Linked DNA regions of Homo sapiens. The protein of the gene in region 3 interacts with the protein of the main gene of each other region in a biochemical or structural test. Each region holds a gene or a part of one and is shown on either strand. Other genes may lie near its edges.

Region 1 (3,600 bases), on a different chromosome or scaffold from region 3:
TAGTCCCAGCTACTCGGGAGGCTGAGGCAGGAGAATGGCGTGAACCCGGGAGGCGGAGCTTGCAGTGAGCCCAGATAGCACCACTGCACTCCAGCCTGGGCAACAAAGCGAGACTCCATCTCAAAAAAAAAAAAAAAAAAAAGCTGGGCATGGTGGCAGGCTTCTGTAATCCCAGCTACTCGGGAGGCTGAGGCAGGAGAATCGCTTGAACCCAGGAGGCGGAGGGTGCAGTGAACCAAGATTGTGCCACCGCACTCCAGCTTGGGCAAAAGAGCAAAACTCCGTCTCAAAAAAAAAAAAAAGGACAGGTAAAATTATAACAGTCCATACCTTTAAATGATTATATACCTCAAACTCTACAGCCATGGTGTGCTTAAAAGCATGAAAATCTGGCCAGGCTCAGTGGCTTATGCCTGTAATCCCAGCACTTTGGGAGGCCAAGGAAGGTGGATCTCCTGAGGTCAGGAGTTCAAGAACAGCCTGGACAACATGGCGAAACGCCGTCTCTACTAAAAATACAAAAAATTAGCTGGGCGTATTGGCAGATGCCTGTAATCCCAGCTACTTGGAAGGCCGAGGCAGGAGAATCGCTTGAACCGGGGAGGCGGAGGTTGCAGTGAGCCTAGATCGCACCATTGCACTCCAGCTTGGGTGACAGAGTGAGACTCTGCCTCGAAAAGAGGAAGGAAAAAAAAAATAGCCTGGGCACAATGGCTCATGCCTGTAATCCCAGCACTTTGGGAGGCAGAGGTGGGGGAGCAGATCATGAGGTCAAGAGTTCGAGACCAGCCTGGCCAACATGGTGAAACCCCGTCTCTACTAAAAATACAAAAATAGCTGGCCCAGGCACCTGTAATCCCAGCTACTTGGGAGGCTAAGGCAGGAGAATTACTTGAACCCAGGAGGCAGAGGTTGCAGTGAGCCGAGATCACGCCACTGCACTCCAGCCTGGGTGACACAGCGAGACTCCATCTCAAAAAAAAAAAAAAAAAAGCATGAACATCTAGATTCACTAAGAGTTAATTTAAAGTTAGTGTTCAGCCAGGCACAATGGCTCACATCTGTAATCTCATCACTTTGGGAGGCCAAGGCGGGTGGATCACATGAAGTCAGGAGTTCGAGACTGGACTGACCAACATGGCAAAACCCCATCTCTACTAAAAACACAAAAATTAGGCCAGGCGTGGTGGCTCACCCCTGTAATCCTAGCAGTTTGGGAGGACAAGGCAGGCAGATCATGAGGTCAGGAGATCAAGACCATCCTGGCTGACACGGTGAAACCCCATCTCTACTAAAAAAACAAAAACAAAATTAGCCTGGCGTGGTGGCGGGCACCTGTAGTCCCAGCTACTCGGGAGGCTAAGGTGGGAGAATGGCGTGAACCCGGGAGGCAGAGCTTGCAGTGAGCCGAGATTGCGCCACTGTACTCCAGCCTGGGCAACAGAGCGGGACTCCATCTCAAAAAAAAAAAAAAAAAAAAAAAAAAAGATTAGTTGGGCATGGTGGCACGTGCCTGTAGTCCCAGCTAGTCGGGAGGCTGAGGCAGGAGAATCGCTTGAACCCAGGAGGCGGAGTTTGCAGTGAGCCAAGATTGCGCCACTGCACTCCAGCCTGGGTGACAGAGCGAGACTCCATCTCAAAAAAAATTAATAATAATAAAGTTAATGTTCTTTTAAGTAAAGGATTCATCCACAGTTCTTTAGAGTATGCACTCTTAAAACTGGAAAAACTTTGTTCTAAAAAATTTAGTTTGCACGTTACATTTTTTGGGGAAAAAAATACCTCAACTGCAGAAAGTACTCCCAGGATAAACTTCTCTTCATTCCAGGGTTAACAGAAGTGCAGTTTTACAAGTTTAGCTTCCTACTAATGTAGCTACTAAACCAACAGCTCTCTTAGCTTTTATCCCCCTTCTAATTCATGTCTGATGTTGCCTCCTGGACTACAGTGAAAGTTCCTCATGGACAAAAACTTCTTTTTCTCCTGCTCCTCTTTCCACCATGGTATGACTGACAAGTAACTGTGTAAAAAATTCCTATTATCTCTTCACAGACAATGTAACATTATAAAATTTTACATGCTATTTAGAAAGTTCAAAATATGTTTTCTTGGTAAAGAAAACCAAAAATCTCAAATGACACCCCTTTTTAAAAGCAGCACTGTCAGAGATTATGACCTTTGTATCAGGGATAGTTTTACAATGAATTAGGGAAGAATACAATTTTTCAAACCATGTTAATGAGTATGAGCATTAAAATTCTAGGCTGAAAATTTTTTTTTCAACTACACAGCTCTGGTAAAGGGAATAGAAGGACTTATTTTGGGAAAACAGATGGATTCTCTGTGTAGATACCAATTTTGGAGGGGGACAATTTTGTCCCATTCCTCACGTTTCTATACAAGGAAGGGAATTTCCTCTTTGTTCCCCAGAAAGAAAATGAAGAAAAACACTTAATTTAGCCCTCATTATAAAATAAAAAATTAAAAACAGGCCAGGAATGGTGGCTCACACCTGTAATCCCAGCACTTTAGGTGGCCAAGGTGGGAGGATTGTTTGAGGCCAGGTCAAGACCAGCCTGGGCAACATAGGGAGACTCTATCTCTACAAAAAATAAAATTAGCCAGGTGTGGTGGCATGTGCCTGTGCTCCCAGCTACTCGGAGGCTGAGGCAAAAGGATCTCTTGAGCCTGGGAGGTTGAGACTATGGTGAGCTATGCTTACGCCACCGCACTCCAGCCTGGGTGACGGAGTGAGACCCTGTCTCAAAAACAAACAACAAAAAAGCCCAAGCCAACCTCCAAAGTGTCCCAGGCAAAAATGTTGCTATAACCCAATATTCAGTACAACTCAGACACATATTAACTACTGTCAGCCAAATACTACAGGAATAGAAGGTAAAGAAGCAATCCTGAAAAATTTAGGTTGCAGCCTCATTAGAATCTCTGAACTTAAATTTGGGCAAAATCTTCCAATGAGAACATGATCTCCCAGTGAGAGAATAACCTTAGCATCATATTGAAGGGCAAATCCACTTATAGTTATCATCTCTGAGAGGAGCATTTGCAACACTCCAGCCTTCTGGAAAGTTCAGAAATTTGAAGCAGGGGAAGCCCCTGTCACTAGTATATTTGAAGTATTTTTTTTTTTCCCATCCAGCATTTTTTTTTTTTTGGTGGTTTTGAGACAGAATCTTGCTCTGTTGCCCAGGATGGAATGCAGTGGCGCAATCTCGGCTCACTGCAACCTCTGCCTCCCGGGTTCAAGCAATTCTCCTGCTTCAGCCTCCCAAGTAGCCGGGATTACAGGCACCCACCACCACACCCGGCTAATTTTTGTATTTTTAGTAGAGACGGGGTTTCACCATGTTGTCCAGGCTGGTCTCGAACTCCTGACCTCGTAATCCGCCTGCCTCAGCCTCCCAAAGAGCTGGGATTACAGGCATGAGCCACCACGCCAGCCCCATGCAGCATATTTGAAAATTTTAATTTCCATCTCCCCTTTAAGCCCCATATTTCCTGGCATCCCAGTGCTGAAATGAACATAATTCCTTTTCTTTTTTTTTGAGACGGAGTTTCGCTCTTGTTGCCCAGGTTGGAGTG
Region 2 (3,830 bases), on a different chromosome or scaffold from region 3:
GATGATAAATGCTCATGTAGTTTGGAAACAAAATCAACTTTAAGTTAAAAAATTAGGAAATTACTGTAATACAAGCTTAACGTTACATGCAAGATTAACTTTTTGTGGATGATTTAATTCTTGGACACCCAGATAAGCTATGCCCTTTAATTAAATGATATTATTTTTCACAAAGAACAAAGAACAAGAAAAAAATTGTCTCATGGAGCTCTATTCTACTGCCTTTTTTCTGCTCTCAGCACTATCTTCTTTGGTAGTAGAAATATCTTGCCTACAGTTTAACTTCAGATGTCAATTACAGGGTTAAGCTGCATAGAGTTTATAATTAGAATAAATGGTTAAATAGGATATAAGAATTTTGCCACACCCCAACATTAACCATGCATTCAAAATGGACACATAGAATTTATTACTACTAACACCTTGTGTTACAGGGAGAGCGAGGAGTACAGAGGGAATTCCTACCCAAATGAAGGAATAATATTTCCTCATTTTTCCCTGACAGAGAATATTGAAATTGAACATAAAGGGAAAATTCACAAAATGAATGACTGGCAGATTTATTGGCCCATTTTTATAGAATCAAACCAGCTTTAAGAATTGTTGGGTAGAACATGATCTCTACCTTAGGAAGCTATAAATACATTTCTCCTCCCCTCAGTACATCATTCAGAATGAATTAAAAATATCAGAAAACAAAATATAAAAGGACAGTTTCTTATATTCATACAATGTGAATGTAAAAGACACTGTATGAATTGTTTTAGTGCAGCCACTAAAATGGATTGGCTGGCTTTGGTTTTAATGAGAAATAACAAAAATTAAAATGCTTTTGAAGAAAAGGAATATGCAATTTAATTAAATATATAGTTTTCTGGTAGAGATATAGCATTCATTCCTAAAATGATTCATTAACAAATTATTTATTAAAGATGGCAAAAAGCCATTTAAAGGACTATAAAATGTGTTCAGAGCAAACTTAGAGAGTCTGCTTTTGCATTCATTAGTATATTAAAAGAGATAAGAGTAACTTATACATGAGGTGAATGTCCCCATCTCCTAAACCTGTGTAAATAATCATCTTCCTTTTATTCTGGTTAAATAACCAGTGTCAATAACAATGTGTTATGCTTATTACTGCATTATGAGATTATAAGTAATATGCATCTGAAATATGAAAATATGATCTTATCAAACCCATTGATTTGTTGTATAAAAAATTCACACATATACAAATATTAGGGATTCTTTAAATAGAAATATCCCCAGTGTGATTAAGAGTTTGTCTATTTATCTAAAAAGATATATAGATATCAAAAGCTAAAAGGTTGAACAGGTTGAGAAACCTAAAGCTAAAATGTTAGGAACCACTGTTTCCCTCTGCATTTCCAAGTCACATATGATAAAAATCCTTAACTATTATATTATAAATTGATAGGATAAGAAGAGATGCTTTAAAATTTCTTAAAGGATGTAAAAGTTTCTTAAAGCAAATCATTAAATTTCCTTAATTTGAAAAATATTAATCACCGTGGGGCCTCAAGTTTATTTTCACCACAATTATGAGAGAAGAATAAAAATCACAGTTTAAAATGTAGCTTCAAAATTCTGGTTGACTAATTTTGTGTCTGAGACAAGGTTAAATCTGAGCAGAAGCAACTTTACTCTACCTATATATATCGTGCTTGATACTGGCCCTTGATTTTTGTCCAGGTTCATAGTTTTCAGGTGGCATATAGATAATTGTCCCTCCTTCTGGTGCAGATTTGCTACTTCGTGACTGTGAGAGGGACATCATGCGCCACTTTGATAAACCAAAATCTGCAATCTGTAAGGGACAAGAGCAAATAATTAAGAAATTTCCTCTTTAAAAAGTCCAAAAGTCAACTATCTTTTTGTATATTCACTGTATTTAGATATCAAACCAGAGAAAATGTAATATATTTTAATATTTTATTTCTGTATATTCCCCCAACTTCTTACAAAATTAAATTCCACACTGCTGAGCCAAATAACTCTAGGAGCAATACATACTGAGTTAAAGTTTAATATAACATTACAAATTTCAAAAGAGAGACTAATTTTTGAAAATTGAGCAGAGGCATTTTTTGTCTGATATTCTCAATGAGTGTGTACCTTGCACACCTTACTTTTCATGACATATAGCTTGATACCATGTGCTTCCTACATCTCACAGAGCTGCCAAGTCTACTCACATCTCATGCAATTGTCACTGGTCATTGTTTACAATTCTGGTTTATACAGTTGTATTAATAATGCCCTAAAGGTAGCATCCTTAAATTAAGAAATACACTAAATCTCAAAATTGTAAAGGTAATTATTATACAATTTTATGCTGATCACTAAAAGAAGTATTTCATGGAAACAGTATAATTGCAAAGAAAACATATTTATGTCCAATACAATGGGTGCCTAAAGAATTATCAGTGACAATATTCTGTGCCTTTGATATGTCCTGTACAGTTTTGCTTCAGTTGTAAATCTTATGCACATATTATACAGTATCTTATAACTAAATATTTAAAAGCTTCCTTATTTTTTACTTTATTTTTTAAAAATGTAAGACAAAATGTAAGAACAGAAATAATATTTAATTGACAAGGGAGTATGGGAAATCCTAAAAGACACTGAAATTACTTAAAATATTTTACTGCATACTTTAGAATTCAGCAGAGTGAAATGAGCTCCATGCAGCACATCATTTGTTTCCATTGTTTACCTCCTATATTTTTTACCAATTTTAACAAAATACATAATTTTTATTAGCATTTAGATGAATTTGAGATAAAAAAAATTATGGCCTCCATTCCCAAAAAGGAGGGGTAGAATAAATGAATTTTTCATTCATTTGCTACAATAAAAGAGTCAATTTAAGAAAAAAAATAAAAATAATCAAGAATTTTAAAATTGAATTCACAGAAAAGGACCAAGATGACTAAGTCATGAGAACAGCTGAGAAAAGCAGTTAAGCAAAGACTTTCAGAAAAATTTTTAAGGACAGAATGAAGAAATATGGGCTGTATAATAGCACTTTTAGGAGTATTCCAGACAAACTGAATGAGTGTTCTCCAAAAGCGCGGATTAACAAAAGGACTGATATTGACCCAGATGAAGGTTCTTATGGCCATGTGATACAGCTCTGATTCAAGCTCTGTACTGGTTCATATTTAATCATGACTTAAAGATACAAAAAATTAGCTAATTAAATTTCAGCATCACACAAAACTTGGAGAGAAACTTAAAACCTTTGGATTATAGAAATAACATTCAAAAAGGTCTTAAGAGACTGAAGCAATTGCTCCAATCTAACAAGATAAAATTTGATCATATCTAGAAAGTATTCTGCAAAGTACATTATTTTGTGTACTTTGTTGCTTAAGAAGAGGTGGCTTAAGCAACGATACGTGGCAAAAAGAACCTCCAAGGGTTTTTTGTTGACACTAAGCCCAATTTGAACTATGTGATATGACTACCCCTGGAAAGCTGATGAATTATTAAGGAACTATTAAGTATTTAGGGCCAAGGAAATGACACTTTCACTAAAGTCTGCATTCATCAAACCGCACCAAAAATAGTATTGTGTTCAGTTCTGACGATCAACATTTAAGTGAGATTTAAACAAAATGATGCATCTACATAGCACCAAGGATTAAAATCCATGTAATAAGAAAACGAGTTGAAGGAACTAAAGGGTATTTATCAGGGAGATGGATAAAATGCACTTGTACGTGAGGGTTTGGGAGACAGCTCATAGCTATCTTCAAATATTGAAAGGGCTGTCTTGCTGAAGTAACTAAATTGGATTTATT
Region 3 (3,830 bases):
GGAGATCAAGACCATCCTGGCTAACACGGTGAAACCGCGTCCCTACTAAAAATACAAAAAATTAGCTGGGCATGGTGGCAGGTGCCTGTAGTCCCAGCTACTTGGGAGGCTGAGGCAGGAGAATGGCGTGAACCCGGGAGGCGGAGCTTGCAGTGGGCCAAGATTGTGCCACTGCACTCCCGCCTGGGTGACAGAGCGAGACTCCGTCTCAACAACAACAACAACAACAACAAAGATCATTCCTGGCATCAGTATTTCAAATGGAAGGGCAGCAGGCAGGAACTCTGATGTCTCAACACCCTAGCTTTTAGTGATTGCCCTGGAGTGGCACTGTCCACTTGAGTAGCCCCTGGCCGCATGTGGCTCTTGAGCACTGGAAATGTGGTTGATCCAAACTGAGATGTGCGATTAAAACACATGCCAGGTTTCCAAGCCATAGTATGAAGAAAAAGAATGTAAACTATCTCATTAATAAATTTTTTGTTGATGGGCTGGGTGCAGTGGCTCACACCTGTAATCCCAGCACTTTGGGAGGCTGAGGTGGGAGGATCACTTGAGGCCAGGAGTTCAAGACCAGCCTGGGCAATATGATGAAACCCTGTCTCTACTAAAAATACAAAAAGTAGCCAGGCATGGGGGTGTGCACCTGTAATCCCAGCTACTTAGGAGGCGGAGGCAGGAGAATTGCTTGAACCTGGGAGGCGGAGGCTGCAGTGAGCCGAGATTGCGCCACCGCACTCCAGCCTGGGCGACAGAGTGAGTGAGACTTCATCTCAAAAAATAATAATAAATAAATTTTGTATGGATGACATACTGAAATATTTTGAGTGTATTAGAATTAAAATATATCATTGAAATTAATTTCACCTGTCCATTTTTACTTTTATTAGTGTGGCTATTAGAAAGTTTTAAATTACTAGGAAAGCTGTGTCATATTTCAATTCAACAGAGCTGCTCTATGGTCTCCTTTTTCCCTTTGAAGATCCGCCATCCTGCAATCCCTGCTTCCTTTTCACCAGAGCAGCTTCCCTGAATCTTCTCCTGGAGGCTCTGCAGACCTTTTCTTTAGTTTGGAAGATCACATTGCAGGAGGGGACTTGGGCACTGGTTTCTGTGAGGAGCCCGGAGTGGTGAATTGCCCCTGGGATTCCCTTACCCTGGAAACTAACCCTCTCTGAGGGCAGAAAGCTAGAAAGAAGAGCGGTTGAGAGGAAATGCCTGTGCAACCCCCAGCTCCCTTCGGGGCTCCCTCACTGCCCACAGGCTCTACCCCCACCTGCCTTTGCCTCAGGAGATGGCTTTTGGTGGTGGACTCACCCTCCTCCGATCTCCTCTGCTTCATTTTTCCACTTGGTGATCCATCTTTTGTTCTGCGGTGTGTCCTGTTTTCTGGCTGCCTCCATTAGCTTGGTTTTTTCCTTTGGGTATCCCTGGAGCTGTCTTACCAGGATCTCCAACTTCAGTCCCCATTGGTCTGCACCACTGGCCTGGGAAAGCTCCACCCAGGAGAGCAGACCCAGCTCCCAGATACCTGGCCCCAGCCCAATCTCCGTCCTCTCTTTGCCTGGAAGAGAGGACCAGACCGTCTTCATCAACTGGACCCACCCTTTACCAAGCAAAGAAAGGAAAGGATTGCCCCCCAGGGCCAGCAGATCTCTGGCTGTCTGGTGTTTCTGGTAATAAGTGCCCATGAACTTCGAATTGATCTCCAGTCTCCCATGGTATGGTTTTGGTCTACCCTTAGATTCTGTTTACCAAGGCAGAGTTCAGTTTCTCTGCTTTCCCTTCCAACATCCATACCTTGTTAAGTTCTTGCTGAATTGAGCTAACTCTGCACACCTGATTAAATCTTCAGCCAGGGCTCTGGACATTATAAAGCAGCCTCCTTGCCAGATGGCTGTCATATAATATATTGCTTTATTTAGGTGATTGTAAGTCAGGAGACTTTCCTTCGGTTTCTGCCTTTGATGGCAAGAGGTGGAGATTGTGGCGGCGATTACAGAAAACATCTGGGAAGACAAGTTGCTGTTTTTATGGGAATCGCAGGCTTGGAAGAGACAGAAGCAGTGAGTAAAACGGGCCCCTCGTGGTAGGCGGGCAAAGGTCGGGAAAGGAGGGATGAAGGAAGCTGTGCAACACCCCTTCCCAGCTTTCTAAAGAATGGAGCATGGCATTGCAAAATGCTGAATCACAAAGTGAGAAGTGACTTCTTTCCAGTTTTCTCTCAGCCTTGTGATGATCTTAAAGAGAAAGTCTCAATTCTGTGCTACTGTGTCTTTAACATCTCTCAAATGCTTCCGAGAGAAAACAGGCCCCAACCCTGGAGCCTTTCCAGGCAGCAGGACTAGCTGGAATACAGTAACATTGTGGTATTTCTGGTGAATTAATTTTTGTGTTACTTTCTATGTATTGCAAAGGATATTTTTTTTCTGTTTCTAATGGTGACATTACATTCCTTTAAAATTATTAGAGTTTTCAAAACTCAATTGAAAGCAAAAGGTTAAGCAAATAAAGGACAGGTGTGACTCAATTATGGCAAGAACAACAAAAAAGTGACTATGGTGGGGACGTTGAACATTTAGAAAACACTGTCCTAAAAGAAGAAGGTACAGAGAGTAGTCTGATACCTGGGAGTACTAGATTTTAAAATTATTCTCTTGCCAATTTTATTCATTCATTCACCATGTGCCACAATAATTTTTTTAAGTCTTTCTTTGATTTTGCAGATTCCAGAAATAAATTGGAAATTGAAGATTTAAACAATGTTGTTTTAAAATATTCTAACTTCAAAGAATGATGCCAGAAACTTAAAAAGGTATTATTAACTGCTAATTTAAATTTAATATTGTCAGCTGGTATGCTTTAAATGAACCGATTTTCTAAAGCTAAGGATCCTAAAGTGGGTCATAGAATTGACTGCCATGGAAAATAGCCGGGTGTGGTGGCTCACACCTGTAATCCAAGCACTTTGGGAGGCCGAGGTGGGCAGATCACTTGAGGTCAGGAGTTCAAGACCAGCTTGGCCAACGTGGTGAAACCCTGTCTCTACTAAAAATACAAAAATTAGCTGGGCATGGTGGCACCCGCCTGTAGTTCTAGCTACTCGGGTGGCTGATGCAGGAGAATTGCTTGAGCTCAGGAGGCAGATGTTGCAGTGAGCCGAGATTGTGCCACTGCACTCCAGCCTGAGCCACACAGTGGGACTCTGTCAAAAAAAAAAAAAAAAGAAAAGGCTGGATTAGTATTTAATAACTTTTATTGGAACAATAACTAATATTTTCATACCTTTAAATTTTTTTGGTGAGGATCTCTTGCCCTTCTGTTGCTGATAATTTTAAATTTTACTCTTTCCTGCTCTATCATTTGGATTCTAAAAAGAAAGCTATTGTGTGGGGTCTGGCATTTGATAGGTTAAAAAAAGAAAACATAGAAGCATGTCAAAGAGCAGGAGACTCATGTGCCACTTGGTGGAAAAAAAATTGAGAACCACTGGACCTGAATGTTAACAGATGTGGCTTGTGAAACATATTAATGATGTGGATAGTGTTAAAAGATCTATGAGCTTTTTTTTGAACTACAAAAAAACCTTTTTTTTACTCTCTCTCTGAAATGCATGAGTTTTCCTGCCTAGACAAACGACAAAGTGGCCAATTCCAGGCCTTTCCACTTCCAAGATCATTTTACACACGCAAGTATTCCTGGACAAGAAGAGGCTGAAGGATCTTCTGTGGGATTTTTTTAAAAAATTATTATTTTTTGCTGTTATTGTTACAAGGAAGGTAGTGAGTGCAATTTTGGGATAACTCAGATGAACCCAAATGTTTTTTAAT

Evidence for each region.
Region 1: the proteins of NOD1 (region 3) and RNF34 form a complex in vitro, tested with the Homo sapiens proteins (one study listed by BioGRID).
Region 2: the proteins of NOD1 (region 3) and RIPK2 form a complex in vitro, tested with the Homo sapiens proteins (one study listed by BioGRID).

Annotation. Positions count from the first base shown.
Region 1 is NC_000012.12:121,410,118-121,413,717, reverse strand, and holds part of RNF34 (E3 ubiquitin-protein ligase RNF34), read right to left. Parts: intron 1-3,600. UniProt on the Homo sapiens protein: E3 ubiquitin-protein ligase that regulates several biological processes through the ubiquitin-mediated proteasomal degradation of various target proteins.
Region 2 is NC_000008.11:89,767,770-89,771,599, reverse strand, and holds part of RIPK2 (receptor-interacting serine/threonine-protein kinase 2), read right to left. Parts: intron 1,829-3,830; coding exon 1,671-1,828; intron 1-1,670.
Region 3 is NC_000007.14:30,458,137-30,461,966, reverse strand, and holds part of NOD1 (nucleotide-binding oligomerization domain-containing protein 1), read left to right. Parts: intron 1-1,925; 5' UTR 1,926-2,066; intron 2,067-2,726; 5' UTR 2,727-2,815; intron 2,816-3,830. UniProt on the Homo sapiens protein: Pattern recognition receptor (PRR) that detects bacterial peptidoglycan fragments and other danger signals and thus participates in both innate and adaptive immune responses.